Regions from separate parts of the Homo sapiens genome. Here regions 2, 3 and 4 are each linked to region 1. The links come from fine-mapping of genetic effects on gene expression. A gene starts in region 1. Each other region holds a variant in brackets. All regions are shown on one strand. Distances are between the middles of the regions.

Region 1 (7,887 bases):
CGTTATTGTGAGGTTACTTTGTTATTAACCATGATGAGGATTACTAGCACATACTTTTACTCCATATGTATAACACAACAATGTAGTAAAACCAATAACTCTTGGTTCTCTATTCAAAGTGTTTGGAATCTTTATTCTGTTTAAAACACTGATGACATTTGCCAATTTTTGAGTGTTCTTCATGTTACTGATTTGTAGGAGCTCTTTATATATTGCAGATTTAGTCTCTTACTGGTTATGTATGCTGCACCTGAGGAGTAGCAGCACTGCCAAGGACACTGAGTGTCTTGTCTGTGCAGAGCTTCACATGAAGCTGGAGAGAAGGGACTGGGGCAAGAGGGAAAGATAAAAAGGGGCAAGTAAGTAACAGAATGAATCCTTGTTGCTAATCTCCTGGCCCCCATCCCAGACCCTTCAGGGGATCCTGGCGATTCGAAGCAGCATAGCCTGATAGGCCTCTGGTGAGGGTGTTGGGAGGGTTTTCTTGGCCGCCTGTTCCAGGATGCTCAAGATGATGCTGTGGGCCTCCTGGCATAGCTCAGCACCCAGGAAAGCCTCCACTCGTCCACGCCATGCTGCCAGTCGTGGCCGTCCCTCAAACAGTTCATAGCCGAGAGCCACCGGCTGTAGGGACAAGGATGAAAAAGTTGTGGGCATACAACTTTCCCAGTTGTCACTGCCGACCCGAATGCTGGAACCATGGGCAGAAGTATCAGAGACATGGTCCATTCCCCAGCCCCTAAGTGAATGGACCACAGGGGCCCAGGCAGTATGTTCAGCCTTAGAGCCCAAGAGCAGCCAGGGTGAGACCCCACACCCAGGCAGGAGGCAGAAGTTCAGGGTTCTGGCCCCAGATCATCCAGAGACTTGCTCTATGATTCTGGGCAAAGTTCTGGCTTTCTCCAGGCCTCAGTGTTTCTGTCTGCCTCATGGGTGTGACACGAAGAGGGACACTGCCCACAGGCTGAGCTCACACCTGCATCAGCTCCTCCAGGGCCATGAGATCAGCCAGTGTCACCTGCTGGCCAGCGAGGAAGGGCCTGTCCCCCAGGAACTTGTCCTCCAGCCATTGCAGGGCCTGGTCCATGGCAGTCCTGTTGCGTTCCACCTTCTCCTCGGGCACCTGGACCCCAATGAGTGGCCCCAACACCTGATGGGGGCAGAGAGTGGGTCAGTCTATGGCCCCGGCCTACTGCCAACTACTCCCTGATGGCCAATCACTCTCCAGATGGCTCTCCTCACCTGGACCCACAGGGGTATACCAAAGGTGCCACGGATGCAGTCGGCATGCCAGCCCAGGTACTCATGAACACGGGCACGAGCCTGCAGGTCAGATGGATACCAGTGGTCCGGCGTCTGGTACTTACAGCTCAGGTAAATCAGGATGGCCGAGCTGGGAACAAATGGGCAGTGGCTATAAGGACACTGGCACCAGGCATTTACCCCTAACTGCTCCCATCTGCCAGTGGGGCCCGGGGGCTTCTCTGCATTTGAAGGACTGCCCTCCAGCCTCGCCCTCCATCTCCAGCTCCCCAACACCACCCCCTCCTCCTACGAGTCTCCTCCTGTCTTTGTTGCCTTGGGCACCGACTCTTGGCTGGACCTTCTGCTTTGCATTTTGAGAACCTCATCTCTGTGATATGCCAGCAGCCGCCCTGTGAGGTAGACACTCCTGTTAGCCTTTTAGCACAAGAGAAAACTCAAGGTCAGAATGGTCAAGTGACTTGTCCGAGGCGGTGCAGCTCAGAATAGGCTCCCTGGACCCCTGGAACCCTGCATGGGGCTGGCACACAGTGGATGCTCCGTGGAGTCCCTTGCATGTCCACGCGCTTGGGTCAGGGATCACGAGGGGAGGAATGTCTTTGGCCCCCGTCTGACAGGCCCCCAGCCATCACTTCTGCAGCCACCTGACCTCTTGTCCTTTTCCTGCCCAGCAGCTGGACCTCACCATGAGCTGTGCCCTTGGGCCATGGCATTGGCCTCTAGGCCCGGCCTGGGTAGATTGGGTAGTCTGCAACAAGTCACTAGAGGCTCTTTTCAGCTAGCATTTGTTGAACAAATGCGCAACAGTGGAAAAATGTTCCCTTGTCTTCTCTTCTAATACCCTTCAGTCTGGGAGTGGAGAGGCCCTGCGGCTCAGAAAAGGCTGGAAGATGAGAGGTGGGGGGACATGTTCTGTCAGCCCCTGCTCATCCCGGTCACACCCCAAGCTGTACCTTCTCCCCAGATACCTCTCCTTTCTTTCTTTCCTTTTTTTTTGAGACGGAGTCTCCCTCTGTCGCCCAGGCTGGAGTGGGCTCCCTCTGTCACCCAGGCTGGAGTGCAGTGGTGCTATCTCTGCTCATTGCAAGCTCCGCCTCCTGGGTTCACGCCATTCTCCTGCCTCAGCCTCCCCAGTAGCTGGGACTACAGGCGGCCGCCACCACGCCCTGCTAATGTTTTGTATTTTTAGTAGAGACAGGGTTTCACCGTGTTACCCAGGATGGTCTCGATCTCCTGACCTCGTGATCCGCCCACCTCGGCCTCCCAAAGTGCTGGGATTACAGGCGTAAACCACCGCGCCCGGCCTTTTTGAGACGGAGTCTAGCTCTGTCGCCCAGGCTGGAGTGCAGTGGCGCGATCTCAGCACACTGCAAGCTCCGCTTCCTGGGTTCACACCATTCTCCTGCCTCAGCCTCCAGAGTAGCTGGGACTACAGACGCCCGCCACCACGCCCGGTTAATTTTTTTTCCATTTTTAGTAGAGACGGTGTTTCACGGTGTTAGCCAGGATGGTCTCGGTCTCCTGACCTCGTGATCCGCCCGCCTTGGCCTCCCGAAGTGCCGGGATGACAGGCGTGAGCCACCGCGCCCGGCCAGATCCCTCGCCTTTCCCCTCCCTCGCTGCCCCATGGGGTATGGGAGGGCCACTGGGGCCCGGGGCCAGTGGGGAGAGCCAAGGTCACATGGGCTCCGGATGCGGTGAGGGGTGAGGGAAGGAGGGCACCTTTCGGTCAAGATGAAATCACCATCCTTGAGCGTCGGCAGTTTCCCCAGGCTGTTGATCTGCAAGAACTCCTTGCTCTTGTGCTGCCCTGAAGAGGAAGAAGTCAGAAAAGGTCTTCAGAATAAAAACGCTGCACCTCTACACCCTCCCTCCTCCTCCCCAAGCGGAGCCCCACAGCCCTGAGAAACAGCAAGGTCTGGGACTAGAGGCCTGGATCAGCCTCACTCCCTGGCTGGGCCTCCCTGCCCTGCCACATTCCGGGGCAGCTGGGGGGCTTTGGTGGGTGGGGCCAGGTGCAGCAGGTGGATAAAGAGAAGTTTTCTAGCCGGACTCTGGTGGGCCAGGGGAGGGGAGGCAAACTGGGGTGGCTCATCTCTTCCCATCTCTTAATTCTCACAACAGCATGTCCTTCTTCCCAAGGTCTTCTGGGCTTTGTGAATTTATATGCGTGCATTCCACGCAAGAACTCTGTCAACTCCATTCAGTATTTTCTTTCCATCCCTACAGAGCAGAAGGTAACATTATCCTCCTTTTCAGAAGGCAAGCTAAGGTTCAGAGAGGCTGTGATCCCTCCAAGGCCACTCAGTCCACAGCATTCTCTGGTGGCAGACGCTGCAGGAGGAGGTGAGGGGGCTGTGCGGGCGGCGAGACGCTCAGGGCAGAGCAGGGCGGGGGCCTGGGGGTGCACTGGGTTTGTGGACACGCGGGGAAACGGGCTGGGCCCACCTTTGACCAAATCCACGGTGCGCAGCTCTAAGGGGATGCCATTCTTCTTGGCGAAGATGTAGACGGCGCGGCTGGGCTGGGACACCAGGTCAAGAAACAGCTCTAGGCCCATGGCGGGGGCGGCAAGGACAGCGGGGATGGCAGTGAAGGCGCTGAGCGCGGTGTGGGCAGCAGCTGTGGCAGGATCCCGGCGCGCCGGGAAATAGGGGATCAGGCCCCACCCCCTGGGGACAGCACCCAATTGGAGCGCACCACCCCCGGACCCGCCTCGCCCCTTCGGTTCCTGTCCAGTCCTGCCGGCCAAGACTCCACCACCAGATCCGTGCGTCCCTACAGGGAGGGCGGTCGCTATGAACGCACAGCTGGGAGGGTGGAGTTGGAGCTGGGGACCCTCGACTGGCAGGGAGGACGCGGATGCAGGGGGCCGACTGCAAGGGGAAGGGGAACCGGCTGGACAGGGAGAAGCAGGTCTGCTTTTCGGGATCCCGGTGCCAGGGACCCTGCCCAGTTCCAGGCGTCGCCCTGACCCAGAAACGACTGGGCGCCGCCGTCCTGGAAAGGCCCCAGCGCACGGACATCTGAGGGTTCGTTCAGAGCTCTGTTTCTCGGCGCTGCATGGTGGCGGAAGGGAGGGAGCGAATGGGATCCCCTAAAAGGGATCTTAGAGTTTCACCCAGTGGGATGTGACACTTGCAGGTGTCCCAAACTGGTGGGAACCTTGACTGGAAGGCTGGGGTTAAGGATGAACTTTCTGCCGTCCAGACTGTCCCCTGCAGAGCAGCTGCTGCCAGACAGCGGGAGCTGCCAGACAGCGGGAGCTCCCACTTCGTGCACAGGATGGGGGCAGGGAGCCCGCAGCCGCGGGAGGCAGGAATGACTGTCCGGGAACCTCCTTTCTTCTCCCTGAATCCCAGCCCTGGCATCTCACCAGGGGGCACAGTGATGGTCCAGGGCTGGGCCCGGGACTCTAGCTGAATCTTTCAGAGTATCCCATCCCTCTGGCCAGTGGCCCAAGCGAGTGAACCAGAATGCTTCCTTGGGAGTTTTGAAACTGGAACTGGAGAGAGGAGCTCCCTATGGGGAGGTAAACGGGAGCTGGGGCCACCTGTAGTGACATTTCCTGAGTTCGAGGAGTAGACGAGACTGAGAGAGAAAAGCTGACTCAGAGAAAGGGAGTGATAACAGGGCATGCTGGCCCACACCTGCAATCCCAGTTACTCTCACGGGATCTGTTTCTCTGATGTCTGGGTATGAAAGGACTTTCTAAGCCTCAGAACAGTGGGAGAACTCAACAAAGAAAAAACCAATACATATACAAGGTTACTTTGTGGAGGAAAAAATGGATTAACCTTAAGCAAAAAACTGGGAAGGATCTCGGTAAAAGATACGTCAGAAGGAAGTAATGTCCTTTAAGATGTTCTTAGAAACCCATCAGACAGGTAGGGTGTGGTGGTTCACGCCTGTAATCCCTGTACTTTGGGAGGCAGAGATGGGCGGATCAGTTGAGGTCAGGAGTTTGAGACCAGCCTGGGCAACACGGTGAAGCCCCGTCTCTACTAAAAATACAAAAATTAGCTGGGTGCGGTGGCACACTCGGGAGGCTGAGACAGGAGAATCACTTGAACCTTGGAGGCAGAGGTTTCAGTGAGCTGAGATCATACCACTGCACTCCAGCCGGGCCACTGAGCGAGACTGTCTCAAAACAAACAAACGAACAAACAAAAAGAAGAGAAACTCATCAGACGAAGACACAGGAAAAAAATGAGCGAAGGAAATCAGCAGAGGTTTCATTGAAGGACAAAGAGAAATGGTCAATACATGGATGAAAACATGTTTAACTTCAGTAATAATCAAGGAAGCACACACCAACACAACATGCACATACTGTTTTTATTTATCAAAGGCACACATATTTTTGAAATGAGTACTCCTAATTAATATGTACAGAGCACTTACCCAGTGCCCAGCACAGGGGTGGCACCCTGTGTGTGAGACAGCATGAAACAGGTAGACACGCGCCCTGCTGAAAGTAAGGGACCGCCTCTCTGGAGGATCCATCGGGCAATAAGGAGGTTTCCACACCTTAACTGTGTCTGCCTTGACCTCTGGGGCCTGGGAGCAGAGCCCCCTCCAGCTGGTGGGGAAGGAAGCGTGGTGTGTTTGAGGACAGAATGGAGAGAAGTTGAGTAGAGCAAGTGTAGACTCTTCCTATCCAAAGTGTGGTCAATGGACTGGGAGTATCAGCATCACCAGGGAGCTTGTTGGAAATGCAGAGGCTCAGGCCCCACTCTGACCTTACTGATTGGGAGCATAAACTGTAACCAGATTCCAGGGAGGATTCATACACACATTCCCGTTTGATAAGTGGGGGGTAGTAGGAGGTGAGGTGAAAAGTGGGGAGGGGATGGCTACCGCACTGGAGAAGGCTGGCTTTGTGTTGAGGCCTTTCTCATGAGGGCAGTGGGGAGCCATGGAAGGCTTTATGCAAGAGAGGGTACGGGCAGATTGAGATTACAGAAGGATCCCACTGGTTGCCTTGTGTGAGGACCCAGGGAGAAGGGGGAGGCTGTCCCTGTTTGAGTAGGAGATGAGAGCTACTGGTGGCTATGAGTGGAAAGAAGTGAGCAGAGGTGAGCAGAAATCCCAAGGACTGGTGATGATAGGATGATGGTGGGAACCAGGATGGGCTTTGGGCAGACCCTGACCCCTCTCTCTGCCTGTCGGCCCACCAGATAATAATCCCTGTGTTCCTGGGCGAGTCAGTGCCACCCGAGATGTTGGCGGCCACTTTGGCTGAGCTGGACGGATGCTTGCAGCTGCTCGAGGACAAGTTCCTGCGGGACCAGGCCTTCCTTACTGGGCCCCGTATCTCTGTGGCTGGCTTGGTGGCAATCACGGAGCTGAGGCATGAGAGTGCCATGGGGTGCGGTGGCCCGCTGGGCAGTGGTGTATCCGGGAAGGGAGCTGACATCCCAGCTCATGTTGTCTTTTCTGGCTGTGGGACCCTGTGTGAGTCACTTCTCCTTCTGAGCCTCAGTGTCCTCATCTATAAAATGGGGCTTTACAAACCCCTCACCGCAGCTATATTAAGAGGCTTCCAAGTGTCCCCAGGGAGGGGGACATCCTAGCCCATCACACACATGGTGGAGGAGGGAAAATCCAATCAGAGAACCCCTAAAGCAGGTCATGCTGCCTTACACTTGGCTATGCCCAGCCCCTCCGCTGACTCTGTCTTCCCCTAGCCCATCAGTGCTGGCTGCTGAGTCTTTGAAAGCGGACCCACGGTGGCAGCATGGTGCCCAACACGTGGAGGCTGCAGTGCGGGAGGACTTCTTCCAGGAGGCCCTCCCAGCTGTCCTGAAGGCCAAGGACCTGCCTCCAGTAGAACCTGCTGTTAAAGAGAATCTGAAGACCTTAATGCAGCTTTTCTTGCTGTGAGTGCGTGTCCCACACTTGCTGAGCCACTGAGGGGATGCTGTGTTGGTAGAATAAAGACATGGAGCTGTCCGTCTCCTTGGTTGAAGAGAAGACATATCTGCAAAGGCTCTGGTCCACAGTTCCTCCAGATATCATGCCTGCATTCCTTTTGTCTCCTACCCCATTCCATTCTAGCTTCCATGTGACCTCTGAAAAGAGCTTGGGCAAACGCTTACTTGACCCTGACCTTCTGTGTGGAACTTTGTATGGTTCCTCACTGCCCAGAAGCTAAAGTACAAGTCATTGAACTTTGCATTCAAGGCCTTGCTCCCACTCCTCCAGGTGGCCCCTTCTGCCTGCACACTCCTAACCCCTCTCTGGGCTCCCACCTTGGCCTCTTGGCCTCCGCTCATGCTGTTCCCTCCTCATCTTCGCCTGGTGCCCTTCCTGGTCTTTTGGCATTTGGCACCCTGTCTCTTCTCCAGGGAGACTTCCCTGACCTCCCCAGCCCCAGTCCAGGTCAGGCGACCTCTCTGGGCTCCTCAGCCCCAGTGTTTCCTTGCGGGGGATACCCCCGGACTGAGCATGTATCATCGATGAGGGGTGACCTGGTGGAAAGATGTCTGAATCAGGATCAGCCTTGGTCTCCTCGGTCTCTCTCCTCACTGTGGGGCGATGTTGTGTTCCACAAGTGGGGTGCAGGGCTGGTTCATGAACCTCCTTGCAGGAAGGGAAGTCCCTGGTTATTTCCTGGCCCTC
Region 2 (7,887 bases), 28 kb after region 1:
AATATGGCTGTGTTCTGCCCGGCTCACCGGTGGTCAGAGTTTAAGGTTATCTCTCTTATTCCCTGAACAATTGCTGTTATCCTCTTCTTTTTTCAAGGTGCTCAGATTTCATATTGCTCAAACACACATCCTGTACAATTTGTGCAGTTAATGCAATTATTAAAGGGTCCTGAGGCGACATACATCTTCCTCAGCTGACAGGATTAAGAGATTAAAGACAGGTATAGGAAATCATAAGGGTGTTGATTGGGGAAGTGATAAGTGTCCATGAAATCTTTACAATTTATGTTTAGAGATTGCAGTAAAGACAGGCATAAGAAACTATAATAGTATTAATTTGGGGAACTAATAAATGTCCATAAAATCTTCACACTCCACGTTCTTCTGTCATGGCTTCAGCCGGTCCCTCTGTTTGGGGTCACTGACTTCCTGTAACACCACTCCTAGCCGGAAGTATTCCAAGTAACCATTGCAACTGTCCTGCCTTAAGGGTGCCTGGTGATGGCTTCTGTCTTAGGTCCCATTCTGGCTCTCTCTTCCAGTGATTTCTCATACTTTGGGGGACACTCTGGCCTGCTTTCCTGGGCCTTTTCCATTACCACCCCCTCTCCCCATCAGGCACTGGGGATGGCGGCCACAGCCTATGCCTTCTTGATCCATGCTGGCTGCCTTGGGATTGTTCCTTATTGGATGGTTTTGCTTTCAACAGACACTCCAATAAAGTACACGAAATAAAGAATAAAGTTAAACAGTCAGTCCCCGTGCTGTGTAGGTGGCAGTAAGTCTGGGAGAGCGACCTCAGCTGAACTAACCATGCTGTGCATCATTGTCAAGCGGGACCAGCAGGATCCTTAGGTCACCTGGCAGGAGGAGGGGCAGGGAAGGGTCCCTAGAAGTGATCTTGAGTTGCACTTAGTGCTCTTGGCAGAGGGAAGGGCTTGGGCTAGTGCTGGAGGCATGAAGATGGGGTGTGTTCAGGGCTCTCCAGCAGTCCAGGCATGGGAAGGGGACGCTGAGGGCCAAAGGCTAAGGTGACACTGGGAAGGGAACCATAGCAAGGTGAGGAATGGCTTTCGGCCATGTGACTGAATTGCCTGTGTGTGGTGCGTGTGTACGTGTGTGAATGTCAGTGAACTGTGTGTGTGAACGTGAGTGAATTGTGTAACTTTGTTTATGTGTGGGTGTATATGTGTGTGATGTGTGTGAACTGTGTGTATGTGGGTGTATATGTGTGTGATGTGAGTGAACTGTGTGTATGTGGGTGTATATGTGTGTGGTGTGAGTGAACTGTGTGTAAGTAGGTGTATATGTGTGTGAATTTGAATGGTGTGTAAATGTGACTGAGCAGTGTGAATTTGTGTATGTGGGTGTATGTGTGTGAGTGAACTGTGTGATTTTGTTGGTGTGAATTGTGTGCCTGTGTGTGTGAGGTGTGTGTGTGTGTGTGACTGAACTGTGTGATGACTTTGTATTAATGTCAGTGAATGGTGTGGTTGTGTATGTGGGTGTATATGTGTGTGTATGTATGTGAATTGTGTGTGGGGTTGGTGTGTATGTGTGTCAATGTGAGTGAGTTGTGTGACTGTTGAATATGAGTGAATTATGTGATTGTGTGGGTGTATATGTGTGTACAGGAGTTAACTGTGTGACTGTGTGTAAATGTTATGATTGTGTGTGTGGGTGTATATGTGTGAATGTGATACATCGTGTGACTGTGGGTGGACGTGGGTGGATGTGTGTGTGAGTGTGCGTGGCTGTGTGTCGAACAGTGTGTGAGTGTAAGTGTGCAGGTGGTAGCTGTGGAATTAAGGCACATTAGGGGAATCCTTCCTTGGCTCTGGTCCTTGGTTTCCCTCCTATGAAACAAGTTGGGTGAATTAGGCAGTCTCTGGCATTCCAGGATTTGGTCTCAGGTCTAAACAGGATTTTGTAAAGTGAAAGCAGCATCCCTTGGGCATCCCGGGAGGTGTCCCTGCCCTCCATGGCTCACCTTCTGCCACATGGCCCAGCAGCAGCTACTCTGCAGGGCCATGTGCTGCCATGACAGGTACTGATCCCCATGGGCGCGGGCCTGCAGGTCCTGGAGGTACCAGTGGTCAGGTGCTTTGTACATGCAGCTCATATAGAGCAAGCTAGCCACACTGGGGGGACATGGCAGGGGCAGAAGACATGCCCTGAACACTCTTCAGCCATTTTCTGGGGCATTTTCACTATCCCCATGATGCAGAGGAGGGATGTGAGGCTCAGAGAGGTTAGGTAACTGCCCAGGGTCACACAGCCCTACACGGGGCCAGATTATCATCTCAACTAATGGCAGCAAGGAAGAAACAAAATGTCATGAACTTCAGCAGGGGCTCAGGGAAGGCTTCCAGGAGGAAGGGGCACCCAGTGTGAGTCTGAAGAATGAGAGCAAGTTGGGTATCTCCCCAACATATCCAAAGCATGGACAGGGCCAGGAGCAAGGCCAGCAGGGAGAGAGCCTTCCAGGTGACATGGCAGCATTGCTCCCCACCCCGTCCCATCTCCTGTTCACCTATGGTGAAGGGTTGTGCAGTCTGACCCCCAGAGCTCATCATGCCTCTATGGGTGTTGGACCATCCAGTGATCCCAGGCTCTGAATGTGAATCCAGCTCCACCAAGGAGGCACTATGTGGCCTCGGTAAAGGACGCCACCATGCGGCCACCAACCTGGAGGCTGGTTTTGGCTTTCATTTTTCCCACCCACCTCCAACCCTTCAGCACACCCTGCAGTTAGAGTTTCAAGAAAAGTCAGAACCGACCATCACCCCACCAACCCTGCACCACCACCACCTTGGTCTGGGGCTCCAGCGCTGCATGCCAGATGACTGCAGTGGCTTTCTCACCCCTGCCAGGGGGATCCTTTATGACGTAAGTCAGATCACAGTTCTCTGCTCAAAATACTCCAGCGACTCAATCCCCCTGCGGTAAGAGCCAAAGCCTTCCCAGTGTCCCATGCTCCCCTCTGTCGTGACCTCCTGCTCTTCCTGCTCACTACACCCACCCTGGCCCGTTGCTCTCCAGTCTGAACCCCATGCATTGTCCCACCTGGAGCCTTCGCCATCACTCTTCCCTCCAGCCAGAACACCCTTCTCCTCATGCCTTGCACATTCCTACAGCTCTCTGCTCAGATGCCACTTCCTCCAGGGAGTCTTCCCTCAACATCCTACTCACACACCCCCAATCTTACCCTGTTTATTTTTTCCATGGCATCCATCAACATCCGATATGTTCCATGTTTACATGGGTTACTGTCAGCTCCCCCTTCTATTAATGGAATGTGAGATCCATGAGGAGAAGGACGTAGACACGTTCACTGCTCAAGCCCCAGGGCTTAAATGGGGTCTGGCCCTGGTGGATGTTTAGCAAATAGCCACTGAAGCTCGCTGAGTGGTCCCTCGACTCTCCAGGGAAACAGCACTTGCCCCACAGGATTTGTGGGCAAAATGGTAGCACTAAGATGCCTGGTACAGCCGCTCCTCGAAACTTAGCACTCTCCTTTTTTCGGAGGGGAAGGCTGGCGGTGAGGAGGCCCGGAAGCAGACTGGGCCCTCTGGCCTTGTGCAAGTCCCTCCCCTCCTCCAGCCTCAGTTTCCTCACTTGTACAATGCAGGAGGGGACTTCTATAACCCTTGTCAACACTGGGTACCACTGCCTGCCTCCACCCATTCTTCACCCTGGGGCTGGTGCAGGGCCCACAGTCCATGATCCAAGCCATCAACAGTGAACAGACAGCCGACTGGCCCCACAAGGCCCGGCAGCAGCCCACGGACCGGTTACCTCTCAGCCAAGGTGAAGTCCCCATCCTTCAAGGCCCGGCACCTTCCTCAGGGGGTTCACCTGGGCAAAGGCATCGCTGTGCTGCTGGCCTGCAGGAGAGATCAGAGAGGTGAGTGGGGATAACCCAGAGTTCTCTGAGGTCTCTGCCCACCCCCACCCCAAAATCCCAGCAGCAGCTTTCTGAGGCCCCTATCTGGGAGGCATCAGGGAAGAGGAAGCCTCTCTGCTAGTCACTGGGTCACAGACCTTGACCCCATCAGAGGGCCATCTTTCCTGTGTCCAGCTCCTTGAAGCATGGCTCAAGGACAATTCCCTGGAGCTGTAATTCACACCCCACCCCCAGCCAGTTCCATCCATAGGTCAGACCCCTCCAGCCTCCTCCCTGGGCTCTAGGCTTGCCCCCTCTGATTCAGCTTCCTATCCCAGCTGGGGACTTAGGCCCTACTGGCCAGGCTGGGTGACCTGTCAATACCCCAGAGTCCCAGCCAAACATGTTCCCAACCCTCAGACCAACCTCATTCTTGCTGGGAATCCCTGCCCCATTCAGCCACTCAGCCCCCGGTGGCTCAGCTCTTCTTCCTTTCTTATGCCAAACTCTCAAGGCTCCCTCCCCACTGGGGGTTCCCAGGTCTGACTCACTTTAGCATTCTAGGCCAGTGCTAGAGGCCGCATTAGGTGCCTGGTGTTTGGATCAGAGGACCTCAGTCAAGCCAGGCTCCAGTCTGATCATAGGCCTACATGTGGGCCTCTTTGCCCTTCTACTGAATGGACATGCACACCCCTGCCCATTCTCCCTCCACAGACTGCTTCTGTGTCCAGCCCCTGTTCTGTAGCAGGTGACTCAAGCTGGTTGTACCAAGGGCAGCAGTTGGGAAGAGTCAGCTGAGCAGGGTCCTCCCTCTGGCCTGCCCAGGGGGCTCTGGCTCTGCTCTCTGCCCTACTGCTTAGTTATAGCCCTGCCTCCTCCACTGAATTGTGCTCCAGCTGCATCTCTGTATGCCAGCCAGACCAGCAAACGCTGGAGCTCAGGGTGAGGGTGCTGGCCTCCCCCACTGCCCTGCCACAGGGCCCTCCAGCCTCTAGCCTCTAGGAGTAGCCCCTTCAGCTGGGTGAGAAGCCCCATGGGATAGAGCAAGTCAGATGCAGGAAAAAGAAAAG[G/A]CAGAAGAATGCCAAGAAATACATAAAAGTGGAAGAGACCCAGGGCCAGACATGGTGGTGCATGTCTGTGATCTCAACACTTTAGAAGGAGGAGGCAGGAGGATCACTTGAGCTCAGGAGCTCAAGGTCAGCCTGGTCTACATGGCAAAATCACGCGTCTACACACACCAAAAAAAAAAAAAAAAAAAGTAGCTGGGCACGGGGACGTGCCTGTAGTCCCAACTATTCTACTTAGGAGGAGTAAGTTGGGAGGATCACTTGATCCTGAGAGGTCAAGGCTGCAGTGAGCCGGGATCATGCCACTGCCCTCTAGCCTGGGCTGCAGATTGAGACACTGTAATAAATAAATAAATAAATAAATAAATAAATAAACAAACAAACAATAAAAAAGTGGAAGAGACACAGGCAGGGGTAGACAGGGACTATTTTACTTAGGAAACAACGAGGCAGTTTGTTTTTTCCAAGCACATGGGGTGAAGATATTCTTGCCCCACTCCATTTCCCTACCCTCGTTCTGTGCCTGCTGTGCCCTCTCTAAACCTGTATTTTGAAGAATGTTTTGTATTCACAAGCAAAGATCAAGCCTCTATTAAAATAGACAACCAGTGGGGCATGGCGGCTCATGCCTGTAATCCCAACACTTTGGGAGGCCAAGGCAAGAGGATCACTTGAGCCCAGGAGTTCTAGGCCAGCCTCGGAAACACAGCAAGACCTCCTCTCAATAATAATAATAATAATAATAAATTGGCCAGGCATGTCGGTGGGCACCTGTAGTCCCAGCTACTTGAGGGGCTGAGGCGGGAGGATCGCTTAAGCCTGGAAGGTCAAGGCTGCAGTGAGCCATGATTGTGCCACTGCACTCCAGCCTGAGTGACAGAGTTAGATGCTGTCTCCAAAAAGTAAAAATAATAACATAGATAATTATGTAATAGTTTCCACACCGGAGAGTCTGATTCTTCGTGTTAGTCTGCATTCTTGGCCCGACTGCAAAGCAGCGGGGACAGGCAGGGATTCGTGGCCAATATCCCCTGGGCCTGCCTGCCCAGCCCAGCTTTGGTCAGCTCCACTGTGCGAAGCTCGAAGGGGATGCCATTCTTGGCGAAGATGTAGACTGAACGGCAGGGCTGGGACAGCAGACCCATGGCGGGGGCAATGGGGTGGGGCGTCGGAGGGCAGACCTAAACCCAGGGGACGGGCCCTGGGGACAAACCCGGGGACAGGCCCGGGAACAGGAACTGCGGGCAGGAATGGCTGGTTGGGGGCGGCGGACAGGAACGGCTGGGGGTAGGTGAGGGATGGGCAGGAACTGCTGGGTCACCGAGCCTGCAGCGGTGCACCTCACCAGGAGCCCCGAGTCCGGCCACGCCCTCTTCACTCATCCCTTGGCTCCTAGAACTTTGGGTCAATCAGTGGCGTGTCTGCTCTCTCACCACCCCTTTCTGGGAATCTAGGCTGCAGGTATATTTCCCACTAAAAGGGAAGAGGAGAGGCTGGGCGCGGTGGCTCACGCCTGTAATCCCAGCACTTTGGGAGACCGAGGGGGGTGGATCACGAGGTCAGGAGATCGAGACCATACTGGCTAAAACGGTGAAACCCGTCTCTACTAAAAATACAAAAAATTAGCCGGGCGGGGTGGCGGGCGCCTGTAGTCCCAGCTACTCGGGAGGCTGGGGCAGGAGAATGGCGTGAACCCGGGAGGCGGAGCTTGCAGTGAGCCGAGCTCACGCCACTGCACTCCAGCCTGGGCGACAGAGCCATACTCCGTCTCAAAAAAAAAAAAAAAAAAAAAGGAAGAGGAGAAAGGAGGTGCAGCAGCCTCCTTGCCCAGTGCCTGGGCCCAGTGCCCAGGACGGAGGCCAGAGAGGAAGGGTGGCTGACTGCCTGCGGGGCTGCCAGCCCCACACCTCATGAAGGAATGAGCTGTCCCTCCCCAGTTGCTGGGGTCATATTTGTTACACTCTAGCTAACGCCTCCCCGAGATGGCTGAGGCCCTGTGAGGCCTATCCAGAGGTTTCCAACAGTGCCTGGCATTGCACAGTAAATTAATCACCATGACACGAGTTTTGCAAAAGAGAAAAGATTTATTCACAGGGCACCAAGCAAGGATGTGGGATAGTAGCTCTCAAATCCACCTTCCCGAAAATAAGGCTTAGGGATAAGCCTTGCTTCCAAGCAGTAGAGCACAGGCCCCAGCCACACTCAAGGGGAGGGGACCATACAAGGATGTGAATAGCAGTGTCGGCCTTGTGGGCCTACAACGCAGAAGGGCCATGCACTTGGTTTAAAGCTTTGCTGTTGCCATCTTAACATTCTTAACAAGTTAAAAATAAGGGTCCCCACATTTTCATTTATAGCCAGTCCTGTCCAAGGAGTTCAAAGATCTCATGAGGGTGGACAGGGCACTGTCTGCTCTGGGCAGTGATGGGACCACTAACAGTTGTTCTCCAGTCTCCCAGCGCCTACCCCAGGGCCACACCTTCCCCTGGTCTCTACTATTCTTTTTTTTTTCGAGACAGGGTCTTGCTGTTGCCCAGGCTGGAATGAGTGCAGTGGTACAAACTTAGCTTACTGCAGCCTCGACCTGGGCTCAAACAATCCTTCTGCCTTACCCTCCCATGTAGCTCAGACCACATGCGCATGCCACCAATCTGGGCTAATTTTTTGACTTTGTAGAGACGGGGTCGCACTTTGTTTCCCAGGGTGCTCTTGAATTCCTTGGCTCAAGTGATCCTCCCACCTCAGCCTCCCACAGTGCTGGGATTATAGGTGTGATCCACCACCCCTGGCCTCTCTCACATTCTTGACATTTAAAGTTACCATCATTGACAAGGAACATGGGTACACTCCAATTTACTCAAGAAAAAGCTCTTTTCTCCATTGAAGACATATGTGGCCTAGCTGCTTCATATTCTAGTTGAGGTCTTCTTGTTG
Region 3 (7,887 bases), 42 kb after region 1:
GATCTTTGGGAAGCCCAAGAATGGGTGTGTGTGGGTGAAATGTAAGGGGTGGGGACGAAGCATATGGCTGAACCCTTGGGGCAGGCCAGAATGATTTTTCCTGGTGCTGGTCTGCCCTGCAAACAGACCAAGGAGACTAATTTTCATATCAGCCAGAGATCTCTGGGATAAGGAAAAGAATACTGCATTTTCTGGTCAATCCACCAGGACCCCAGGTCCCTCCTCTCGGGCATATCTCTGGCTGATATGCAAATTAGTCTCTTTGGTCAGTGTGCAGTGCCCTAGCTGGTGTGCAGGATGGCCAGTTGAGACCCTGGCCAGTGTCTTGACAAGCAGAACTGGTCACCCTCCCCTGCATGTAGAGGCCACATAAATGCCCCACACTCAGGTGTGCCTCCAAATGCACAGTGGATGCCCCTCAGACCCAGCCACGAGAGCTGTCCTCCAGAGCTGTCTGTCTGGAGCTCTGGGAAACAGGCAGGGCCAGAAGGACACCCAGGAAGCCAGTGAACATTTCCTGGAGAGTCCAGCAAGAGGAGGAGGTATCTGGGATGCCGGTGGATTGAGCAGGAAATGCAGTGTTCTTCTCTATCCCAGGCTCACCCTCCGGGTCCTCCCACACCGAAGAATCTTTGTCAAGTGTGGAGAACTGTGATCCTTCCTGATTCATAACATTCTGTGCTTCCTGTTGCCCCGATTGAGTCCAGGCCCCCAGGCCTGGTTCCCGCAGCCCCCATGGCAGCTCTGCCTGCCTTTCCCGCCTCACCAGCCTATCCTCAAGTGATGGCCCCATTGGTCACAGAGGAGTCCTACCTCTGCCCAGGGTCTAACCCTCCTCCAATCCACTCCACACCTGCATCATCTCCACCACGGCCACCAGGTCAGCCAGTGAGATTTGGTTCCCGGTGATGAACATCTTATCCTGCAGAAAATACTCCTCAAAGAGCTGCAGGCTGTTCTTCACCTCTTCCACTGCATGCTCCATCTTCTCAGCTGAAACTTCCTCCCCTGTTATCTTTGGGATCAGCAACTGGCCAGGGTTGGGAAGAGGAGGGAAGAGGAGGCTGCACTCCAGGGCCACCTGCCCTGCCAGGTCTCTGTACTCTTGTCTGCTGGATAGATATTGAACACTTCCCAGGATATAAAGCAGTTTCACCTCTTTTAGCAGTTCTGATTGGTGGAAGTTGCTGGGAACCATGTGTTCACAAGGATTTGGGGAGCTCAGCAGGCATAAGTCCTGTGATTGATTAGTGATGTCTGTCACAGGCATAGAATTCAAAGTAGAGACACATGTACTGGTTATTTGTCATCTTCTAATTTTCTATAGGCCATACTCTTTTTTGTTTTTGTTTTTTGAGATGGAGTCTCACTCTGTCGCCCAGGCTGGAGTGCAGTGGCACAATCTTGGCTCACTGCCAACTCCAACTCCTGGGTTCAAGCAATTGTCCTGCCTCAGCGTCCTGAGTAGCTGGGATTACAGGTGCCCATCACCACACCCAGCTAATAATTTTGTATTTTTAGTAGAGATGGTGTTTCACAATGTTGGCAAGGTAGGTCTTGAACTCCTGACCTCAAGTGATCTGCCCGCCTCGGCCTCCCAAAGTACTGGGATTACAGTTGTGAGCCACCGTACCCGGCCTTCTGTGGGCCTTTTGACGCTGAGATTCTCTAGTTCAGAATGAAATGCCTCGAATGCTGTCCTGGGTGAGTCACATCAGCCCCTCCCGTATGCCCTTCCCCTCGCCCTAATAAGACTCTTTCATGCCCATTGTTTCAGTCCACACTCCTGACGGCTCTGTAAGGCGGGCAGGAGAAGGAGCTGAGGAAATGAGGCCCAGAGAGGGAGGGAGACTTGCTTGAGGTCGCCGGCAGTCAGCAGGGCCAGAACTGGCCTCCAGCCTTCCTGACTTCCCTGTGCCCGTGTCCCCAAGCCCCAGAAGTGGCCCTGCTCACCTTGAGCCAGACTATCTTCTTCATGGGCAGCTGAAAGGCCGTGTGTTGCCAAGCCACGAACTCATCCACACGGGCACGTGCGTGCGGGTCTGGCGGGCACCAGTGCGATGGTGCGCTGTACTTGCGGCACAGGTAGTAAAGGATGGCCGCGCTGCAGAAGGGGCCGGTCAGGGGCACTGCCCTTGCCTTCCTGAGTGCCACTACATCAACCACCCCGGTGTGGCCTGGGCCCAACTGCTGGGGCTTCCAGAGCAAAGAGGAGCCCAAACGGCCCCGAGAAAGACCTTCACCAGAGCTGTCTGTCTGACAGTCAGTAAGGGCTGGGAAGGAGCCCTGCGGGGTGAGTAGGAGTTGGGGGCTGGTGGTATAACAAAGAGTAGGCCAGCAGGGGGAACAACACGTGTTGAATTGGGATGCTGAGGTGGGAGGATCACTTGATCCCAGGAATTTGGGGCTACTGTGAGCCAAGATCACACCACTGCACTCCAGCTTGGGTGAAAGATCAAGATCCTTTTTCAAAAACAAAAACGGGGGGGCACGATGGCTCACACCTGTAATCCCGGCACTTTGGGAGGCCAATGGGGGCAGATCCCTTGAGGCCAGGAGTTGGAGACCAGCCTGGCCAACATGGTGAAACCCTGTCTCTACTAAAATGAAAATACAAAAATTAGCTAGTTGTGGTGGCACACACCTGTAATCCCAGCTACTTGGGAAGCTGAGGCACGGGAGTCACTTGAACCTGGGAGGCAGAGGTTGTAGTGAGCCAAGATTGTGCCACTGTACTCCAGCCTGGGCCACAGAGCAAGACTCTGTCTCAAAAAACCAACAAAGAAAAACACATGCTGAAATACGAGGGTAAAGGGAGCAAGGTAAATCTGAAGAAAAGAGAGTAGGGGGTTGCAACTGGAAGAAGGGTGGGGGTGATTGGGGAGTGATGAGGCAGCCAGAGACACTGTGGAGTCCACGTAGGGTAGCCCCTGGAGGTGCAGGGAGGTTATGGACTTAATGCTTAAGATTAGGCATTATATAAGCCAGGGCATGAAAGGATCCATCTCTCTGGTGCTGGATGGAGGGTGAGCCCGAGGGGGCAGAATGGACAATGAGGGGGCCAGCAACTATCGGGAAGGTTGTGGTGTCTGGGAATGTTGGAGGCCATGGGGACAGAGGGAAGGGGATGGAGGGGAGACATGCTTCGGAGGGGATGTCCTAGGCCTTGCTGATTGATGGCTGGTGTGGGAACCTCCGCAGAACAAGGGCTCCTTTATCATCACCAGCAGCAACCATGCCAAGGTAAAAAGGTCAGGGCATGGAGAGAGCTATCGGTTAAAAAGTGGCAGGAGAGACAGCAACTGGCTGCAAGACTCAGAACTTCTTGGCTGGGCACGGTGGCTCACGCCTGTAATCCCAGCACTCTGGGAGGCCGAGGCGGGGGGATCATGGGGTCAGGAGATCGAGACCATCCTGGTTAACACAGTGAAACCCCGTCTCTACTAAAAATACAAAAAAATTAGCCAGGCATGGTGGCGGGCACCTGTAGTCCCAGCTACTCAGGAGGCTGAGGCAGGAGAATGGCGTGAACCCGGGAGGCGGAGCTTGCAGTGAGCCAAGATAGCGCCACTGCACTCCAGCCTGGGCAACAGAGCGAGACTCCGTCTCAAAAAAAAAAAAAAAAAAAACTTCTTTGGATCCTGATCCAAACAAACTGCCAAGAAAATGTTTAGGAGATAATCATAGAGTTTTGAACAGGAGCCACATATTAGATGAAATCCAGGAATTATTGTTAATTTTATGAGGTATCTTAATGGTATCGTAGTGATGCTACGCTCTATCCTAGCCCAGGCTGGAGTGCAGTGGCGCAATCAGAGTTCACTGCAGTTCTGAACTTCCTGGCCTCAAGCGATCCTCCCGTGTCAGCCTCTGGAAGTGCT[G/C]GGATTATAGGCATGAGCCACCACACCCAGCCTGTTGCTTTTTTTTTGTTTGTTTTAAGAACTCTTATCTCTGAAAAGTATGTTCCTAAACATTTATTGATTTATTTACTTATTTATTTTTATTTTTGAGATGGGATCTCACTCTGTTGCCCACGCTGAAGTGCAACGACGCAGTCTTGGCTCACTGCATCCTCTGCCTCCTGGCTCAAGCAGTCTTTCCGCCTCAGCCTCCCGAGTAGCTGGGACTACAGGTGCAGACCACCATGCTGGCTAATTTTTGTATTTTTTGTAGAGATGGGGTTTTGCCATGTTGTCTAGGCTAGGCTGGTCTTGAACACGTGAGCTCAGGCCATCCCCTCACTTCAGCCTCTCAAAGTGCTAGAATTACAGGCATGAGCTGGCTTCTAAACATTTATGAATGGAATGATGGGGTGTCTGGGAGGCAGGGGAATAGAAATGATGTAAACTGGACCCCAAGTTGGCAAGAGTCAGAGCTGGGCGATGGATTTGTGGGGTTCCTCGTGTCCCTCATTAGTTAGTATTCACTCTCCTTTAGTGCACGTGTGAGATTTTCCATGGTCAAACAGACAAATGCTTGCACTGAACCTCCCAGGAGAAGCAGAGACAGATGGTGCAAGGGCCCCAGGGAAGACTTACCTTTCACTTAAGATAAATTTCCCATCTTTGAGGCTGGGCAGCTTCCTGAGGGGGTTGATGTCAATGTATCCTTTGCTGTGGTGGTGACCTGGGAGGGGCAGGGAAGGTCTGAGGCTGTGGGACTCCAGGGGAGAGAGAACTGAGACTCCCAGAGACCCAAACGCCTCCCTCTCTATTTTCTCAAGAAGAGGGAACTGAGGCCCGGAGGGACATTGCGTCTCACCCCAGGTCACAGGGCAAGGCAGTTGCAGAACCGGACTGCGATCAGAACTGCTGGCTCCCAGCCTGCTCCACCCTAGGTTTGGTGACTCCCGTGCCTCCTACCTGTGTCCCAGGACCAGGACGACCCTTTTACCCAGAAGCTGGAGGCCTCCAGTGCCCACCCCCAAAGCTGGATCTGAAAACACAGCCTTTGAATCACCTGAAGCCCTGAGGGCCTGGGTCCCATCCGCAATCCCATCGCTCTCACTCTGTCTCCACTTTAAGGAAGCCAGGCCCAGCACACAGCTGGACATCCAAAGGGAAGCTTCTCGGACACAATCAGGGTCATCTTAACAGGGAACCTGAGGTGGGGGCAGGAACTGAAACTCTTCCTGGACCAGCCGCCTCCAGTTGGAAACATTTCTGGGGGCTCCACTCGCAGCCCGTTCATTTCCACAGCTTCCCTGTCTCTTCCTCTGTGTTCTAGAGGCTTCTGCTTTTGCAGGCTGAGCTTTTGGAGTCCCTCTGTGCTGGGGATGGAGTTGGAGCCCACCCCTCTGACCCTCACTCAGGGTTAGTGGAGCCCTGAGCCTTTCTCAACACTGGGGAGGATGGGTGTAGACGGACTGTGCACTTCTGCCCCCTTTGCCAACCTGGTGGGCAGGTGCTGAGTTCACAAGGTCCTAGAATCCCACAAGGAAGCCAGGGTGCCTGGTGGGAGCCCAGGGAGTCCCAGCTACTGTTCCTTCCCCCTTCTCCTCGAAAAGCCTGTTCATCTGTGGCGTGGGGACTGTCATTAGTGAGCACTGACTAAGGTAGGCTGGACAAGGATGCAGCCTACAAGCCGCGTGGCATCTTTTCCTTCCCTGTGGACCTCTGGGGTGATTCCCTTGTCTCTGTCTCTGCTCCTCAGAAACGCCCCTATCAGGCTGTGCGCGGTGGCTCACGCCTGTAATCCCAGCACTCTGGAGGCTGAGGTGGGCAGATCACTTGAGGTCAGGAGTTTGAGACCAGCCTGGCCAACATGGTGAAACCCCTGTTAAAAATACAAAAAATTAGCTGGGCGTGGTGGCATGCACCTCTAATCCCAGCTACTTGGGAGGCTGAGGCAGGAGACGCACTTGAACCCAGCAGAGGTTGCAGTGAGCCGAGATAGCACCACCGTACTCCATGCTGGGCAACAGAGCGAGACTCCATCAAAAAACAAGAAAAAAAGAAAAGCCGCAATCTGTGTGTCCTGCCTCCCCCCAGGACCAGGCCTGCCAGGCAGCAGTGGGAGTTGACCTTTCAGCAGATCCACAAACTGAAAGTTGAACTGGATGTCATGCTTCTTCGAGAAGATGTAGACGGCACGGCAGGGTGCTGACAGCAGGTCCATGTAGAGCTCCAGTGCCATGTTGAGACACATGCCAGGCCCCACAGCCGCAGTTGGCCAGCCACAGACCTGGGCCTATGTCTGGCCAGAGTCCCTGGCCCTGTGCCCTCTCCGATCTGGGCCCAGGATCCTGTGTTCCCCAGGGAAACCTCTTGTTTCCCTTTGTGTTGTCATAAGGCCAGGAAGCCTGCAATTCTCACAGCATCAAGGATTCTAAGGAGGCCCAGGAGTAGGCTGGGGAGAGGCCCGTGGCAAAGGTGTGGCAGCCGTGACCCTACTCTCCCCCTTCCACGTGTGCCTGTGCCCCGTGGTGCCACCTCACAGACACCAGTCTGAGAAGGGATTATGCCTGGGAATTCCCACGGCTGGATTTTCATTGCAGAACCTGACGAAAGGGGCTTTGCAGGGTCCAGAATGAAGAGGAGGCAATGAGAATTATCCCTGGAGGATTCTAGAAGTAGAGGCTGGGAGTATCCACAGGTAAATCGAGCCTGAACTATGACTAGAAAGGAATTGGGAGAAAGAGACACAGGTGAATCGAGCCTGAACTATGACTAGAAAGGAACTGGGAGAAAGAGACACAGGAAACTGTGAGCTTTGGGAGCAATGGGGACACCACCACCAGGAAGTCAGGGGGCACTCAGCCGGTGTGTGCCACACAGAGGAGCCTAGAAACTTCCTGGCCTTGGTTGGGGCTGCAGTGGCCAGACTGTGTACCTGGTGGCCAAGGAAGGTAACTAGAGCCCCACGTAGAGGACTGAGTGCCACTCACTCTATGCTGTGATCTAATAGGTCTAGGCTGAGAAATGGGACTGACCCCACTTCTGGTGACAGAGTAAGCCTGGAGACAAGCGAAGAGCATGCAGTGTGTTTATTGCAGACAGCAGGGTGCAGTGGAGTGGGCTGCACCCACTGCACCTGCTTCTGGGCCAGCTGGGGGTCCCGCCAAGCCTCACTGTGGTTCAGAGGCTGGAGTATGAGCTTGTGGGCCTCCAGCAAGAGCTCAGTACCAAGGGCAGCCGCCACACGGGCCTGCCACACTGCCAGCCGGGGCAGTCTTGGAAGAGGTCGCAGCCAACGGCAGTGGGCTGGGAAGACAGGGCAGCTGGGGTTGGGGCTCAGCCCCATGCCCAGAGTCCCCCCAGAGGGCAGGTGGGTAGGAAAGCTTCACCTGCATCACCTCCGTCAGCACCAAGTCTTCCAGGGAGATCTGCTCCATTGCCAGGAAGGGCCTGGCCACCAGCACCCCCCAATCCAGGTGCTGCAGGGCTGGCATCAGCCTCCCCAACAGCCGCTCCAGCTGTGCAGCATCTGCAGGCTGTCCGGAGAAGTGGGGCAGGAGAGACTGGGCTGGGAGGAGAGGAGCAACTTAACCCAGACTCTTGGAAGCCTCTTGGGCCTCCTCTCCATCCCTTCCCGGCTGCCACTCATTAGTGATGTCCTCTGGGGCTCTGTGTTCAGAAGGTTTCTAAGGATTCATTCAGGCTTAGGGGAAGGAGTACTGTGATAGATTAGTTATGTCTGCTGAGGACAGTGGAAGTGAAGCTAATATGTAATATGTACCAACTGGTGCCTTCCATCTCTGGGGGTCCAGGCCCCTGCCCCAGCCTGCATGACAGGGCCTAGGAAGCTCACCTTGCACAGGTAGACATTGGTGGCAGGCAGCTGGATGGTGACATGCTTCCACGCCAAGTACTCATCCACGCAGGTGCGGGCTTGCAGCTCAGGTGGGTACCAGTGTCCCCGTATCTGGTACTTTCGACTCAGGTATAA
Region 4 (7,887 bases), 50 kb before region 1:
CAAACACTGCGGAAGGCCGCAGGGACCTCTTCCTAAGAAAGCCAGGTATTGTCCAAGGTTTATCCCCATGTGATAGTCTGAAATATGGCCTCATGGGAAGGGAAAGACCTGACCGTACCCCAGCCCGACACCCGTAAAGGGTCCGTGCTGAGGAGGATTAGTATAAGAGGAAGGCATGCCTCTTCGCAGTTGAGACAAGAGGAAGGCATCTGTCTCCTGCCCGTCCCTGGGCAATGGAATGTCTCAGTATAAAACCCGATTGTATATTCCATTTACTGAGATGGGGAAAACCGCCTTAGGGCTGGAGGTGGGACATGCGGGCAACAATACTGCTCTGTAAGGCATTGAGATGTTTATGTATATGCACATCAAAGCACAGCACTTAATTCTTTACCTTGTCTATGATGCAGAGACCTTTGTTCACGTGTTTATCTGCTGACCTTCTCTCCACTATTATCCTATGACCCTGCCACATCCCCCTCTCTGAGAAACACCCAAAAATGATCAATAAATACTAAGGGAACTCAGAGGCTGGCGGGATCCTCCATATGCTGAACGCTGGTCCCCTGGGTCCCCTTATTTCTTTCTCTATACTTTGTCTCTGTGTCTTTTTCTTTTCCAAGTCTCTCGTTCCACCTAACGAGAAACACCCACAGGTGTGGAGGGGCAACCCACCCCTTCAGGCTGCATCAGCAACTCAGTTATCCAGGCGCAGGTTCTAGGGTACCCACGTGTTGAGCTCAGTCCCTCTGACTCCCAAGCCAGGACTCTGTCTGACGGCACCTGCTTCGGTCAGGGCGTGGGAGATTGGCCTGGGCAGGCTCTTCCTCCCAAGGCAGGGTCAGTGTTGAGTAAAGGCCAGGACCATTTCCCCAGACAGGCAAGGCAGGGCCCAGGCCTGGGTCCAGGGCCTCTAAGTCCACGTCCCCACTTTGGCCACATGGGTCATGAGGGGTTTCTGTGTGAGTGGCCTTTTACACTTTCCCAAGCAATTTCCCCAGACATTATCTCATGTTATCCTCATGAGGACCACCCTGTGAGGTAGGAATTAGCAACCCTGTTTTAAAGGGGAAACTGAGGTAAGGTATGACGCTTTCCTGGCAGGGCCAGCCTCTGGCACAGCAACAGGGGGACAGTGAGGATGGCCAGATCTGGGTGCCCCTCCCCACTGCCTTCTCTTCCAAGCTACAGTCTTTTATTCAAATTCTTCTCCTCTTTTTCTCTCTCATTTCCCCTCCCCCGCTGCCATGTTTTTTATGCTTGTGGATGTCTCATGCAAGAGTGTTCAATAGCTCCTCCCAGCAGTCTTAGAAGGGAGTGTAAAGATGACCAGACACGGAACCCCGAGAGTTCACTGGGGGTTCCCAAAGGCATGTATAGGATCCAACGTGTTTTTTCTGCCTCCCACTCTGCCCCCTTTCAAGAAGTGCACCTGTGGTTCAAAGTTCAGCTTTTACTGCCGGTGCATGTGTAGGAGAGGACAGGGCAGGCTAGAGCCCTGCTAAGGGCCAGAGAATCTCATCCCACCCAGAGGAGGGTTCTTTTAGGCGGTGGGTACAAATCTCAGAACATCCCCACTGTATTGTTGAGAGGGTGAGGTGGGACATGTTGGGGGAAGAGCGAGCTGCAACCGGTGCAGCTGCGATTATTCAGAGCAGAGGTGGCTTCAGAGACAACATTAAGCTTAACCCTCAGGGGCCCTCTTTGCCTTGGGAGGAGCCCTATCAATGCTTTTGTCATGTGCTTTTGGAAAATATGTAGAAGACATTTTTACAAGTTGGTTGAGGCCTAGTGTCTCTTTTCAGTTCATATTCTCCCTCTGTCACGCGTCTGTCCTGTTGGAATGGCTGTGGCTATTTTGGATATGGCTAAGGGAGAAGGTAAAATTGGGGATCATTTTGTATGAGTTTAGTGGGACACATTTCTGGGCTTTGAAGTCACTTCTGTATCTACTAAAAATTGCTATAGTTATCTTTGTGCATAAATTACTTCTGGCTGATGTAAGCAAATCCCCGTATCGGGACTCAGCCGGGGAGGGTTTTTGGCTTTGCTCAGGAAGGAATTCAAGAGTGAGCTAACAGACAAAACTGAAAGCAAAGCAAGTTTATTAAAGCAACATTGTACAGCAAAATGGCTGCTCCACAGACAGAGCAGGGCTACCCCACAGGTAGAATAGCACTCCAGGATTGCTGGCTAGCTATATTTATACCCCCTGCTAATTATATGCTAAATAAGAGGCAGGTTATTCATAAACTAGGAACAGGAAGTTCCTGGAACCATATAAGATAATTCCTGGGTTATTGCCGTGGGATCATTTGTAAACTGTCATGGCCCTGGTGGGAGTATCTTATGCAAATGCATTTTAATTCCTATTCCGAGCTGGTTTTGGCCATTCTTTGTTATTGTTATGTTCTGTTTTGATCAGCAGGGTTTTGACAGGTGCTTGGAAAAATCCTGCTGATCTCCTCCCTCACAGGGACATGCCTACTGCCAAAGGAGAGACGGAATTATCTTTCTATTCTCCCCATAGAAAATATTACAAAATCACTGTCACACGAAAATGTGATCAAAGAGTCTGCAGCCAAGAAATATGGGGGGGACAGAGTGTTTTAAAGGCGAAGGTGTGTCTGTCACTTAGTAAAAATGTCAGGATTCTTTTTTTTCTGGAGTTTGTGGTGTTTGTCGGCTTTTCAAAATTTGTCATTCCTTTTCTTAATCTAAATAATCATTTTATAGAGAAAAAAAATTACTCATCAGTGTTGATGATGCCCTGGTTTTCTGTTCAGCTTTGTTTTCCAATCAACTCTTCACCCAAGACTCAATCCTCCACCCTCCAACTCTTCATCCAAGACTCAATTCACCCAACACTCAATCCTCCACCCTCCAACTCTTCACCCAAGACTCAATCCTCCACCCTCCAACTCTTCACCCAAGACTCAATCCTCCACCCTCCTCCAACTCTTCACCCAAGAGTCAATCCTCCCCTCCCAGTGTTTACTGATCAGCCTCCTATCAGCTATTAATGGGACCTCAAACATTCTCTATGGCTCTGTTCTCACGCAATGCAATCTGCTAATCTCTAGGAACTGCAGACCCCACTTAATGCATTTAAAGTATGTATAATGTGACCCAATAGCTTCTTTATCCCAAGCTTATTGATTCCTATAAGAATCATCATCCTCAAGTCACACATGAGGAAACTGAGGCCAAGGCCAATGCTAAGGCTGATGGAAGTGACAGATGTTGAAGATGACACAGCATGACACGAGGGATGAGGTCAAGGCTATTGATGAGGTCAAGACAGCTGTTGTGCTTTGTCCCAAGGCCATTCCAGTTGGTGACAAAATAACTATAACAGATTCCTGGCCAGGGCTTCTCCCTCACAGCAGCTGCCTCCTACTGGAGTCAGAAATGCCTTGGTTTATATAGTTTCATTCATAGGCTGTCTTAACTCTATTTAAGCAGAAAAGGGCTGAAATGTCTTGCCCAAGATCCCTCAGCTAGTAAGTGACAGATGCAGGTTTCAAATCCAGGTCGCTGGACTCAGGGCAGGGCCAGGGGGAATGAGGGCAAACAGACTGGCAGCTGATCAAACTGACACTGCCTTCCTGGTAAAGGGGACAGTGAGGAGAAATTGACAATAGCAGGAGGCTCTGACCACAACAGGCTGCCTCCAGTCTCTTCTCTCACCAGTGGCCCCCAAAGCCACGTGAGTTGGGCTTTCTGACCACACTTTATTGCATTTGCAGACCCTACATGCTTTAAACACACTTTTAGTATCTCACTGGGTCTCTAACAACCCCAGGAGTGGGCAGGGCAATAATTATTTCACAGTTGACAAAGCAGCTTCACGAAAACATTGGGAGCTCAATAACTTCCCTATTGGGATGCACCCCCAGGAGCTGTTCAGTTAATGTCATAGCAGGTTCAGGGAATGGGCTTAAACCCCAAGATATCCTACACCATTTTGTACACAGCAGGTTCTGTAGGGAGAAAACCAACAAGGTCTTCCCGGAGGGAATGGGCTTAAACCACAAGATATCCTATACCATTTTGTAAGCCTCCCTGTGATCATTTCCCATCCAAGTACTAACCAGGCCAGACCCTGCTTAGCTTCTGAGATCAGACGAGATTGGGC[G/A]TGTTCAGGGTGGTATGTGAAAGATTCTCCCCGGGGCCTGAAAGTTTGGGGGGATGAATAACTCCTCCCTTCTCAGGCCCAGTCCCAAGGCACAAGACCACTTGTGCTAGCAGCGTGTGTCAGCAAGATAGCAGAAGCAGGAAGAGAGCTGGCCAGGAGACACGTACCCCTGAAGATCAAGAGAGAGGCCATCTGGGTACCATGTAGCAGTTACATCAGACTGGGACACTTCCTGTTTACAGGAGACTATAAAACCCCTGCCCCGTCCTCACCTGGGGCTGACGCCATTTTAGGCCTCAGCCCATCTGCACCCAGGTGCTCATTAAAACAGCGTGTTGCTCCACACTGCCTTGTGTTCTTTGCTGGCAAGCTCTCGGGGTTCGAACCAACACAAGAGCCTTACAGTATGGCCGCAGATGTCTCCCAACATTTCACAGAACCTGGTCAGAATAAAACATTCCATGGGGGTTCAGGTCATAAAAAAATACTGCCTAACCACCTAACCACAGGAACATCTCTATTACATCCTGCTGGATGAAGGGCCCAAGGAACATCTTCAACATCCTGCAGGGGAGCAAGCTATACTGCCCCTTCTCCCCCGGTCCAGACCCATAACTGACAGAGCAGGAGCACTGCCATCTTGAACAAATACCACCATTCTAAGTTCCCCCTTCATTAAAAGCCGCCTAAATCCAGCCCCAAAACATCAGCCTAATGGCTAATGTCAGCATAACCAGAAATATTCCAACCCTAAGATAAACCCCTCTGACCAGAAACATGCCAACCCCGAGACAGCCTCCCTTCCGACCAGAGACATTCCAACCCCGCAATAAACTTTCCCTCACACAGAAACATTCGGAACCTACGATAAGACCCCTTCCAAAACCCTTAAATATCCTTAGTCTGTAACAGAAGTTAGTCTGAGCTAACTCGGCCAGAAGCCCCTCTCAAGTTTATTTTCTAAAATAAACCTGTCCTTGTTGACTGCCCAGCCACCCTTCGTGTTGCTTTCCTCTTCCTTATAGTAAATGTCCCAGTCTGTAAGTGGGACTCGTGCTCTGAGACTAAGCTGGTCCCCCCTCCACAGGTTTGTGCTGGCAATAAACCTGTGTTGCTGTTAAGCTGCCAACTCTTTAACCCTCACCTTCCCTTCAAAACCTAACAAAGATGAATGAGGCATGAACATGAAGACAGAGGGTCAAACCCAAAGAGCAGATTCCGTGAGAAGTCTCCCTATTGACAAGGGTTACTAAGGATGGGGTCTTCTCTGGACCCCCTAGTCTTAGACTTAGTCCACCACATCCAGAAGCCCTTGAAATAAGATTGCAGTGCTTCTGGCATAGCCAAAGACATAGACTTCTCTAAAAATCAGTGCCTAGCTCTCCCCAGGCTGGGCCCTAATTTTTAGTCCAAGCTGTATTATTTTGTAAATCTTCCTGCCATTTCATAGACCCTGGTCACAGTGAAACATTCTGCAGGGGTTTGGGCTGTAAGTAACATCCTCCCCAACTGTCTGACTTCTTTATCACATCTTGTTGGGACAAAGGTTTAAGAAATATTTTTATTAACATCCTCTTGGGCAGTAAGTCCTACCATTCCAGACCCCTCATCCAGGCCTATAATGATTCCAGCCTGTAAGTGCTAGTGGGGCTTTGGCATTAAGTTGGTCCCCACCTCTGTAGGTTGTGTTAATAAACCTGTGTTGTAGAGTGGTCAACTCTCTTGTCTTTAACCCTCGTCTTTTTTCAAAAACCTAACACTCATGTGTCCTCTCCCTCACCTTCTCCTGGCATCCCTTGCCACTGTCCCTCTGTCCCTCTTTCCCCTCCTTAACCCAAAGGGAAATCTCTCCCAAAGGTAAAAGTCTCCCAGGGGTTAAGAGGGAGCTTGAGGCACCAGAAAGAGCTATAGTCACAGCCACCTGTGAAAGCCATCTCTGAGGTCCCTTCCTGTCACAACAGCTGGGCTCCTGACTCAGACCAAGACAGCTTTTGTTTCTTTTCCTTTCTAGCCCCCCACTTCCCACCCACCTTTCTGCTTTCTCATATGGGCTCATTATGGTTTATAGGGCTGGGGAACGTTGCCTCTTCTGCCCTCCATTTCTCCCATCTCCCTTCTTTCCCCTCCACTTTTTCTGAGTCCACTTCTCTTCCCTTCTTCTTCCTTCCCTCTGGGACGCTGCACAGTTCCTTCCACCCGGCACGGCCTGGGACTCTAGACTCCCTCTGAAGGCACGGAAGTATTTCCTTCCCTCCCTCCGACCCGATCTTTCTGCCCTTGATTCAAAACAATCTGAGGTCCCTAGGCCCTTCCCTTTCCGCCTCTGCGCTCCCCATGGGGTCCGGTGTAGTTTTCCCGCCCCTTCCCTGCAGCTCCCGAGACCACCCGGACACAACGGAGCCATCCAGCGCCCTCAGAGGCCCTGGGCACACGGGCAGATGGTCACCGCCTCCTAAGGGAGCAGCGCGCGCCCGTTGCTCGCTGCCCGTTGGTTGTTGCTGGTAGCTCCGGAGGGCGGGGTTGGCGAGGAAAGTGAGTCCGTATGTCCCCAGCATGCTCCGCGCGGGGGCGGGGCTCTAAGGGGGCAGGCGAAGGCGGAACTGGCGTGGTCAAACCAACCTATCAGCCTCCAGCATGCTCCGTGTGGGAGCGGGGTTCCCGGGGGCGGGGCTTGGTTTGTGTGCCCTTCCGGCGTTTCGCCCCTGCGTTCTCTGAGATGCTCCCACGCAGATGTATGGGCCTAATTCGCTAATATCCACTCTATATCCTGTTCCATCCTCTTGTAATGGGCGTTTGGAGTGTTGCCAATTTTTTGCTGTTATAATGATTGTAATAGCATATTAAAAAACTTGAACATAGTTTGATTGTAATAACATTAAATATAGCATCTTAAACATACAGTTTGAGCGTGCCAACCTGATGGGTGTGGAATGTAATATTCATTATAACTTTGATTTTCATTTCCCTACTTTGAGTAAGTTTGAACTTCTCTTTATGTAATTATTGACTACTCTGTTTTCATGTTCTGAGAATTGCCTGTTTGTATTTTATGCCCATTTTTCTATTGGGTTGTGGTTTTTATTGATTGGTAGTTCTTTATAATTTTATGGATACCAGTCTTTTACTAGTTCAGCGCATTAATTGCAAATATTTGCTCCCACTCTGTGGCTTGCTTCCTTTCCACCCCTAATTCCTAGGGTGTCTTTTTGAAGCACAAATCTAAAATTGTAACACAGGCGACTATCAATCTTTTCCTCTATGATTTGAGCATTTTGTGTTTTGCTTAAAAACTCAGCCCTTGTCCCAAGGTCATAGAGATATTCTCCCGTATTTTCTACTGATCCATCCCCCATATTTAGGTCTTTGGTCCATCTGTATTAATGTTTATGTGTAATATGAGATAGGGATCCTACTTTATCTGTATTGTGTTAACCAAAAAATGACTGAGACAGGTGTCTCAATCAATAAAGGTTAATTTAGCCAAAGTTTGAGGACATGCCTGGGAAAAACACAAGTCTCAGTTCCTAATATTAACCGCTTGCATTTAGTAGAAATGACCTTCAAGGTTCTCTGTAGCAGAGATGTGGTTGAAAAAGGAAAGGAAGACATAGGGTTTGTAGATGGCCATAGCTTCACGGAAGAGCGAAAGAAGGGCAGGATATGTGGTTCTCTCCCTATGGAAAACCATAGAGGCCAAAAGCTTCCCTGCCCAAACTTCAGCCCCAAAGACTCAGATAATAGCCTTAACC

What was found. PIP is the estimated chance that this variant, and not a neighbour inherited with it, causes the effect.
Region 2: its variant is fine-mapped to the expression of GSTT2B in subcutaneous fat (GTEx, PIP 0.90).
Region 3: its variant is fine-mapped to the expression of GSTT2B in prefrontal cortex (ROSMAP, PIP 0.95).
Region 4: its variant is fine-mapped to the expression of GSTT2B in prefrontal cortex (GTEx, PIP 0.96).

Annotation. Positions count from the first base shown.
Region 1 is chr22:23,957,309-23,965,195 of GRCh38, forward strand. GSTT2B (glutathione S-transferase theta 2B) reads right to left here and starts at 3,887. Exons shown (of 5, transcript NM_001080843.4): 1 at 3,712-3,887; 2 at 2,986-3,073; 3 at 1,243-1,393; 4 at 977-1,150; 5 at 106-624. The coding sequence starts at 3,823. The coding sequence ends at 415. RefSeq lists an enhancer at 2,108-2,773.
Region 2 is chr22:23,985,329-23,993,215 of GRCh38, forward strand. It overlaps a transcript of GSTT4 not described here. Among named protein-coding and RNA genes, the nearest start is that of DDT, 15 kb to the left of the region's middle. The variant G/A (reference allele first, on the strand shown) is at 4,957.
Region 3 is chr22:23,999,222-24,007,108 of GRCh38, forward strand. GSTT4 (glutathione S-transferase theta 4) reads right to left here and starts at 6,232. Exons shown (of 5, transcript NM_001358664.2): 1 at 6,024-6,232; 2 at 4,539-4,626; 3 at 1,954-2,104; 4 at 854-1,030. The coding sequence starts at 6,135. It overlaps LOC105372959 (a long non-coding RNA gene), which reads left to right and starts at 6,330. Exons shown (of 2, transcript XR_001755457.1): 1 at 6,330-6,371; 2 at 6,497-7,887. The variant G/C (reference allele first, on the strand shown) is at 3,882.
Region 4 is chr22:23,907,368-23,915,254 of GRCh38, forward strand. No RefSeq gene overlaps it. Among named protein-coding and RNA genes, the nearest start is that of MIF-AS1, 12 kb to the left of the region's middle. RefSeq lists enhancers at 1-322, 1,169-2,013. The variant G/A (reference allele first, on the strand shown) is at 4,139.